2 separate regions of the Homo sapiens genome follow, and region 2 is linked to region 1. The links come from fine-mapping of genetic effects on gene expression. A gene starts in region 1. The other region holds a variant in brackets. All regions are shown on one strand. Distances are between the middles of the regions. Region 1 holds the start of PRDX6-AS1 (PRDX6 antisense RNA 1). Region 2 overlaps PRDX6-AS1 (PRDX6 antisense RNA 1).

The links.
Region 2: its variant is fine-mapped to the expression of PRDX6-AS1 in prefrontal cortex (BrainSeq, PIP 0.95).

The regions. Positions count from the first base shown.
Region 1 is chr1:173,459,561-173,464,092 of GRCh38, forward strand. PRDX6-AS1 (PRDX6 antisense RNA 1) reads right to left here and starts at 1,802. Exons shown (of 2, transcript NR_125960.1): 1 at 818-1,802. LOC100506023 (a long non-coding RNA gene) reads right to left here. Exons shown (of 3, transcript NR_037845.1): 2 at 2,764-2,894. RefSeq lists an enhancer at 532-1,031.
Region 2 is chr1:173,416,871-173,420,870 of GRCh38, forward strand. PRDX6-AS1 (PRDX6 antisense RNA 1) reads right to left here. Exons shown (of 2, transcript NR_125960.1): 2 at 919-1,752. The region is part of intron 2 of LOC100506023 (a long non-coding RNA gene); the gene reads right to left. It also overlaps a transcript of TNFSF4 not described here. Among named protein-coding and RNA genes, the nearest start is that of PRDX6-AS1, 42 kb to the right of the region's middle. RefSeq lists enhancers at 1,312-1,651, 3,410-3,509. The variant T/TA (reference allele first, on the strand shown) is at 1,754.

The DNA of each region.
Region 1 (4,532 bases):
ATACTAAACAATAGTAAAAATAAAATACATATTGGGTTATTCTTAAAATCCAAAGTCAAATATTAGCAAGTCTAATTAAGAATGCTTTTGACAGCAAGTAACAGAAACCCTGACTCCAATTATCTTTAAAAATGAGGGTATTTCTGAACTCAACAGAAATCTAGAAGTAGGATAAGTTTTAGGATGGGTTGTGGTTTAATTACGTTATTAAGAACCCAGGGGAGGGGGGCCAAGTTGGCCAATTAGAAGCAGCAGCTGTCTGTGGCACTCAGGGAGAGGAAGAAAGGAGCAAGTGAATATAGCACCTTCAACTGAAATATCCAGGCACTCACACTGGGACTGATCACAGAAACAACTCGACCCATGGAGAAGAGAGAAAAGCAAGGTGGGGCAATAGCCCACCTGGGAGCAACATGAAGCCAAGAGAACTCCCACCCCCAGCCAAGGGAAGCAGTGAGTGAGTGTGCAACCCCAGGAAACCACGCTTCTCCCACGGATCTTTGCAACCCACAGATCAGGAGATCAGTGCACCCACACCACCTTGTGCACCCACATCACCAGGGTCTTGGGTCCCACACACAGAGGTGTGTTGAGTCTCAGCAGAGCAGCTGCTCAGGCATGCATAGAGATCCAGGAACTTTACATATTCCGGCCCCAGGATCCCCAACAGAGGTGTCTGTAACTCAGGCAAGGTGGGAGGTCTGTACATACCCCTAGGAAGGGGGCTGAATCCAGGGAGCCAAGCAGCATCAATCTGTGGGTCCCACTTCCACAACACCTCACAAAATAAGACCTACTGGCTTGGAATATAGCCTACCTGTGATGGGACAGAGTCCCCAGTGGGAGGGGTGGGCTGCCATCTCTACTGTTTGGTTGACTCAGCCATTTCAGTCTATGGGCTTCGGAGAATCCATATGGTTCAAACAAGGAAGGGTCTTCCCAGAACACTACAGCGGCATTGCCTGAACGTGGCCAGGTTGCTTCTTTAAGTGGGGCCCCAATCCATTCCTCTTCACTGGGAGGGACCTCCCAACCGGGGCCTCCAGCCATCTCTGCCTGTATTCCACAAACGGATCCTGATCTCTTTCTGGAATAGCATGCCCGAGGGGAGGCGAGGAGGGAAGGAGGAGGGGAGGGGAGGAGGGGAGGAAAGGAGGGCCACCAAGCTGGCTGTTTGAATGACTCAGCCATTCCAACCAGTGGGCTTTAGAGAGTCCAAGCCAACAAGGGCAGAAGCAGTTTCCCAGCACAACAAGGCTGTTCTATTGAGGCATGGCCAGATGGCTTCTTTAAGTGGGACCCTGATCCACTTTTCCTTGACGGGTAGATCATGCCAGCTGGGGTATCCAGCCACCCCCGCCCATGTTCTGTGGCCAACAGACTTCTAATTTTTCCCTGGGACAGAGTGCCCAGAGGGGAAGGCGGGCCACCAACTTGGCTGTTGGGCACCTCAGCCAGTTCAGCCTGTGGGCCTCGGAGAGCCCAAACCAACAAGGGGCTGATGGGATCCCCAACACAGCACAACTGCTCTATCAAAAACAGCCCAACTGCTTCTTTAAGTGGATCCCTGATCCCGTTCCTCCTGACTAGGTGAGATGTCCCAACTGGGGTCTCCAGCCACCCCCTACATACTGTGTGCTCATGCTGGCAACAGGACAGTACCGCCCTGGGATGGAGCTTCCAGGGGAAGGGGCAGGCTGCCATCTTTGCTGTTTCATAGCATTCACTGCTGATACCTCCAAGTACAGGAAAAACTGAGGCAACCAGGGTGTAGAGTGGACCCCCAGCTAACTGCAGCATCTGTAAGGAAGAGTAAACAGACTGCTAAAAGAAAAAGATGAAAAAACAAAACAATCCATGAAAGCGCCATCCAAAGGTCAGCAACCTCAAAGATCGAAGATAGATAAGCCCACAAAAATGAGAAAGAATCAACGCAAAAATCTTGAAAATTCAAAAACCCAGAGAGCCCCTTTTCCTCCAAATGATCACAACACCTCTCCAGCAAGGGCTCAGAACTAGGCTGAGCCCAAGATGACAGAAGTAAGCTTCAGAATGTGGACAAAAGCCAATTTTGCTGAGCTAAAGGTGTATGTCCTAACCAAAGGCAAAGAAGCTAAGAATCATGATAAAACAATGCAGGAGCTGACAGCCAAAACAGCCAGTATAGAAAGGACCATAACCGACCTCACAGAGCTGAAAAACATACTACAAGTACTCGCAATGTAATCCCAAGTATTAATAGCAGAATAGACCAAGCAGAGCAAAGAATCCCAGAGCTTGCAGACTATCTCTCTGAAATAGGACAGGTAGACAGGAATAGAGAAAAAAGAATGAAAATGAATGAATAAAACCTCTGAGAAATATGGGTTTATGTAAAAGGACCAAACCTACAACTGATTGGGGTACCTGAAAGAGACAGGAAGAATAGAACCAAGTTGGAAAACATACTTCAGGATATCATCCAGGAGAATGACCCCAACCTAGCAAGATAGGCCAACATTCAAATTCAGGAACAAGAGAACCCCAGTAAGATAACTATTCAAGAAAATCATCCCTAAGATATGTATCAGCAGATTCTCCAAAGTCAAAATGAAAGAAAAAATGTTGGCTGGGCACAGTGGCTCATGCCTGTAATCCCAGCACTTTGGGAGGCCAAGGTGGGTGGATTACTTGAGGTCAGGAGTTCAAGACCAGCCTGGCCAACGTGGTGAAACCCTGTCTCTACTAAAAATACAAAAATTAGCCAGGTGTGGTGGCACATACCTTTAGTCCCAGCTACTCAGGCTACTCAAGAGGCTGAGGCAGGAGATTTGCTTGAACCCAGGAGACAGAGGTTGCATTGAGCTGAGATCGTGCCACTGCACTCCAGCCTGGGTGACACAGTGAAACTCCATCTGAAAAAAAAAAGAAAAAAGAAAAAAATGTTAAGGACAGCCAGAAAGAAAGACCAGGTCACCTACAAAGGGAAGGCCATCGGACAAGCATTGGGCCTCTGAGTGGAAACCCTACAAGCCAGAAAAGATTGGGGGCCAGTATTCAATATTCCTAAAGAAAAGAATTTCCAACCCAGAATTTCATATGCAAACTAAGTTTCATAAGCAAAGGAGAAATAAGATCCTTTTCAGACAAACAAATGCTGAGGAAATTCATCACTACCAGACCTGCCTTACAAGAGCTCCTGAAGGAAGCACTAAATATAGAAAGGAAAAACCATTACCACTACAAAAACACACTGACATACCAATGATACAATGAAGTATCCACATAAACCTGCAAAATAACCAGCCAGCATCATGATGACAGGATCAAATCCACACATAAAAATGCTAATCTTAAATGAAAATGTGCTAAATGCCTCCCAAAAAAAGATACAGAATAACAAGCTAGATAAAGAGCCAAGACCCATTAGTATGCTATCTTCAAGAGACGCATCTCACGTGCAAAGACACACATAGGCTCAAAATAAAGGGATAGAGGAAAATTTACCAAGCAAATGGAAAACAGAAAAAAACAGGTGCAATCCTAGTTTATAACAAAACAGACTTTAAATCAACAAAAATCAAAAAAGATAAAGAAGGCCACTACATAACAGTAAAGGGTTCATTTCAACAAGAAGAGCTAACTAACCTAAGTATATATACACCCAATACAGGAGCACCCAGAAAAAGAAAGTACTTAGAGACCTTCAAAGAGACTTAGACTCACACACAATAATGGTGGGAGACTTTATCACCCCACTGACAATATTAGGCAGATCATTGAGACAGAAAATTATCAAAGACATTCAAGACCTCAACTCAGCTCTGGATCAAGTGGGCCTGATAGCTATATACAGAACTCTCCACTCCAAAACAACAGAATATACATTCTTCTCATCGCCACAGCACTTACTCTAAAATTGATCACATAATTGGAAGTAAAACACTCCTTGGCAAATGCAAAAGAACTGAAAACATACCAAAGAGTCTCTCAGACCAAGGTGTAATCAAATTAGAACACAAGATTAAGAAATTCACTCAAAACCATATAACTACATGGAAAATGAACAATCTGCTCCCGAATGACTTTTGGTTAAATAATGAAATTAAGGCAGAAATCAAGAAGTTCTTTGAAACCAATGAGAACAAAACTACAATGTCCAGAATCTCCAGAATGCAGCTAAAGCACTGTTAAGAGGGAAATTTATAGCACTAAATGTCCACATCAAAAAGCTAAAAAGATCTCAAGTTAACAACCTAACATCACAACTAAACAAACTAGAGAAAAAAGAGCAAACCAACCCAAAGTTAGCAGGAGACAAAAAATAACCAAAATCAGAGTAGAACTGAAGAAGACAGAGACATGAAAAACCCTTCAAAGAATCAATGAATCCAGGAGCTGGTTTTTTGAAAAAAATTAATAAAATAGATAGACTGCTAGCTAGACTAATAAAGAATAAAAGAGAAAAGATTCAAATAAACACAATCAGAAGTGATAAGGGTGATATCACCACTGACCCCACAGAAATACAAACAACTATCAGAGAATACTAC
Region 2 (4,000 bases), 43 kb before region 1:
ACAGTTGTGAGCCATTGTGGCCGGCCACAAATGTTATTTTTAAAGCACACACACATTCCTGGTGGAAGGTAAGTATCCTCAGCACCCATTTCCTGAAACGTCTTTTAATCATCACAATATGGAGATTGTATTATTATCTCTATTTTAAAGACAGGGCAGTATTTTCCTGGGGCAGTATTTCCCAAATTGTGTCCCACGGAATGCTAATAACAGTACTAAGAGGTAAGTGGTGCTCACTTTTGAAAATGCTCCTATAGCCAAATATTTTTGAGAAATAATGCAGAGGAATGGTGCATTTGTGAGCATAGACCCAGGAGTCAGAGACACCTCGGTTTGGGGCCGAGCCCCACTGATTATCAGCTTTGCGGGTGCAGCAATAATAATCCTAGCTTCCTTATCTGGGATGTGGGAATAATGAAATACCCGCTTCATAAGGTTCGTGTGAGGGTTGATGTTATGAGGTAACAAATGTAAAGCTCTTAGCACATAGCTGGTGCAAAAAAAGTCTTCAATAAACAAGAACTCTTATTGGCATTGTAGCAGGTTAAATATTGTTAACATCTTACAGCTAGACCTATAATTTTTTTAGGGAGAGATCAATTTTGTTTAGGAAAACATCTTAATAAACCACGTGGAAGCGTGGCCAGCAATGAGACTCTGAAGTTACAAGCCATCAATAACCAAGACCAAAACCTAGAAAACCAAGTTTGAAAAAGCCAGAGTCCCATAGAGGGTGAGTACTGATTTCTCTCATTGCCTGACATTATAACAAAGAGGTTCAGGGCACAAAGATGAGATCTCACCTCCGTCTTCACCTCCCTCTTTTTAGTACTACTCCATCCTTTACAGATTCACCTACACACACTCACACATGCACACACACCACTCCCTTTTCAGGAAGAAAGCTACAGGCTCCAGTTAATTAGAAATTCTACTATTTCAGCTTTATTACTTCCTCTTTACTCTCTGAACTTTAAAGGAACACATTTCTGTAAAGTTTAAATTATTTCAATGAGGTGTATTACCTTTTTAACTGGGGGTGGGAGGGAAGCACTTTTTTTTTCTTTTTTTTTTTTTTAATGTTGAAGACTCCACTCAGTCATTTGAGCTCCAGGAAGCCTTCCCTGGCCACCCATAAGTTAAGAGAAGAGCCCCTCTTCTGAGCTCCCAGAGCACCCACTTCATACCTATGCTATAGAACACACCGCCAAGGACGGAAATTATCCAAAGGTTTGTGTCCATTGATTGCCATGCCAGGCATCCAGCTCTGCTGAAGCACGCAGGGGCCCTGACTTCCTCATTAGGTATTCTCAACACCTCCACCAGCAGCTGGTAGGCAGCAGAGCTATTGTTACTGAGCTGCCCACGGCACCAATGGATCTATGAATGAACCTGAACGTCTTCCCTGGAGAAAAGCACTTGCTTGTCAAGGGAGGAACAGGGGTCTGAAATGCTAACCCCTGCCCTATAGTATGGGTGTGCATACGGTGCACCTTCCAAAGCCCAGAGTGGCATTCTTATTACATCCCGGAAACCCCCTGGTCAGGGGCTTTTGGGGTGACATCCAATATGTAAATACCAGGGTCGGGTCCTGCTGAGTGGCATAACAGTGCCATATGTGAAAGTTCCACCAGCAGCAGAGGGCTCTTTCATTAGTCATTTCACTGCACACAGCTGTAAGGAATCTGGCGAAGCTTGATTTGGCTGGGAGGAGTGCATTTTCCACTTGTAGGCGTCTTGAAAACTTTCATAC[T/TA]AAAAAAAAAAAAAAAATTAACAACAAGAAAATCATCATAGTCCAAAATGAGAAGCCAGAAATTGAAGGTGGAGAGCCAGGGTAGCAAACATAATGGAGGGACTCCAAGACCGGGCTTCCACCAGGACCCTACACTGACTCACAGATGTGTAATGGTCATGGCGAGCCTTACATGTAAACAGAGATCCCAACATGTCCCAGAGGTAGTGGCTGTGGAAGCCTGGGCAGATGCCAGGCAGTATTCTAAGGTTAAGCATTGCTATGGTTTGAATGTGACCCCCAAATTTCATGTGCTGGAAACTTAATTCCCAAATTCACATATCGATGACATTTGGAGGTAGGGCCTTTGAGAGGTAATTAAGATTAAATAAGGCCATGAGTGTGTGGCCCCCACGGTGGGGCTGGTGGCTTTATAAGAAGAGTTAGAGTAACCTGGCCGGGTGCTGTGGCTCACGCCTGTAATCCCAGCACTTTGGGAGGCCAAGGCGGGCAGATCACGAGGTCAGGAGATCGAGACCATCCTGGCTAACACGGTGAAACCCCATCTCTACCAAAAAAATACAAAAAAATTAGCCGGGTGTGGTGGCGGGCACCTGTAGTCCCAGCTACTTGGGAGGCTGAGGCAGGAGAGTGGCCTGAACCTGGGAGGCGGAGCTTGCAGGGAGCTGAGATCACACCACTGCACTCCAGCCTGGGTGACAGAGCAAGACTCCGTCTCAGAAAAAAAAAAAAAAAAGAAGAGTTAGAGTAACCCAAGCGGACAAGCCTGCTCTTGCCCACTTGCCATGTGATGCCCTCTGCCACGTGAGGATGCAGCAAGAAGGCCTTCACCAAATGCCAGCACCATGTGCTTGGACTTCCCAGCCTCCAGAACTATAAGCAATAAATTTCTTGTCTTTATAAATGATCCAGTCTGTAGAATTCTGTTACAGCAATGGACTAAGACAGGCATGATTTGGGGTACAGAGAAGGAAAACTGAGAGGTCACAGAAGAGAGAGGAGGGTGGAAGCTGGGGGAGAGGCACTGATGGAACCAGCTTCCACCCTTCCCTGCAGGGCTTGGAAAGACCCATGAGGACACAAGGGAGAATAAAAGGAAGCAGCCCTGATTGCCATGGCTGGGTCAGGGTCAGGAGGCTAGGACTGCTTTATGTCCCTGCTATAATGGACTTATGGGTTTTTTAAGATTTTTTAAAATAGATTAACTATAGCTCCTAGAGCTGACTCTACTGATAACTTTACCCTGGACTCCCTCCCTGATTTTGACCTTAGTTTGTGTGGCGGGGGGGGGGATGAGAGGCTGCGGTCCAAATGGAATGCAGTTTGCCTGTCCTCTATCAGCATCAATGCATCACCTTTCCCCCGATTTTTACCTCATGATATATTTATGCATTTAACGCATGTTTATTGAGTGAGCTGCATGCAGCAAAATGCACGTAAAAAGCAATTTTTTTTCTTTTTTCTTTGTCCTTTCAACTCCTCTCTCTGGATTTGCCTTGTCCCTGCACTTGAGATGAAAGCTAACCAATACCACGGATTTTCTAGCCACTCTGAGCCATTAAATAAAGAGGCTCTTTAAAACAAACAAACAAAAAAAAAAGTAAAAAACAGTCTACTCAACCTGAAGCTTCTCCCCTCTCAGACTCCTTCACTTCAGGTTTGGAAACTCGGTACCAAGGAGGAAGGCATGGACTTCACCATTTTCTCTCCTCCACCTCTCGTAGCCAGCTGCTAATTCTCAAGCCTCAAGCTGTGAGAGATTGAGAACTGAGGGAAAGGACACAGTACTTGACGGCTCTTACTGTCATGACGCGGCCTTGGTGCCCTCTGGGTTTAGCATGTTTTCCAACGCTTTCCTTTCCAGCCTCACTTAGGCACATTGCAGTTAAAGAATATGGCCACCAGGTGGCAGTAAAGGCCTTTTTTTTTCCTGGCCAGTAGACCCTACCCTCCGGTTTTATATGGCTACATAATTTCTTTAAGATGATGTCAAATATGCTTTCCCTACATTTCAAAAGAAAAGAAAGTAAACACTTAAAACCACAAACTGGTCAACTTAGCAAAAACTAAATATAATTTAAAGATGATGCCCTAGGGAATAAACGTGTAAAGAAAACCTCCCAAGTTGTTAATTATGTAATTACATAACTAATTTACTAAGTCTTTCTCTTCCTCAAATTATTACTGTGTAAGTCTAAATCTTATTCCCAGATCTTGATCATAATTTACCTTCCCTTAATTTAGAGT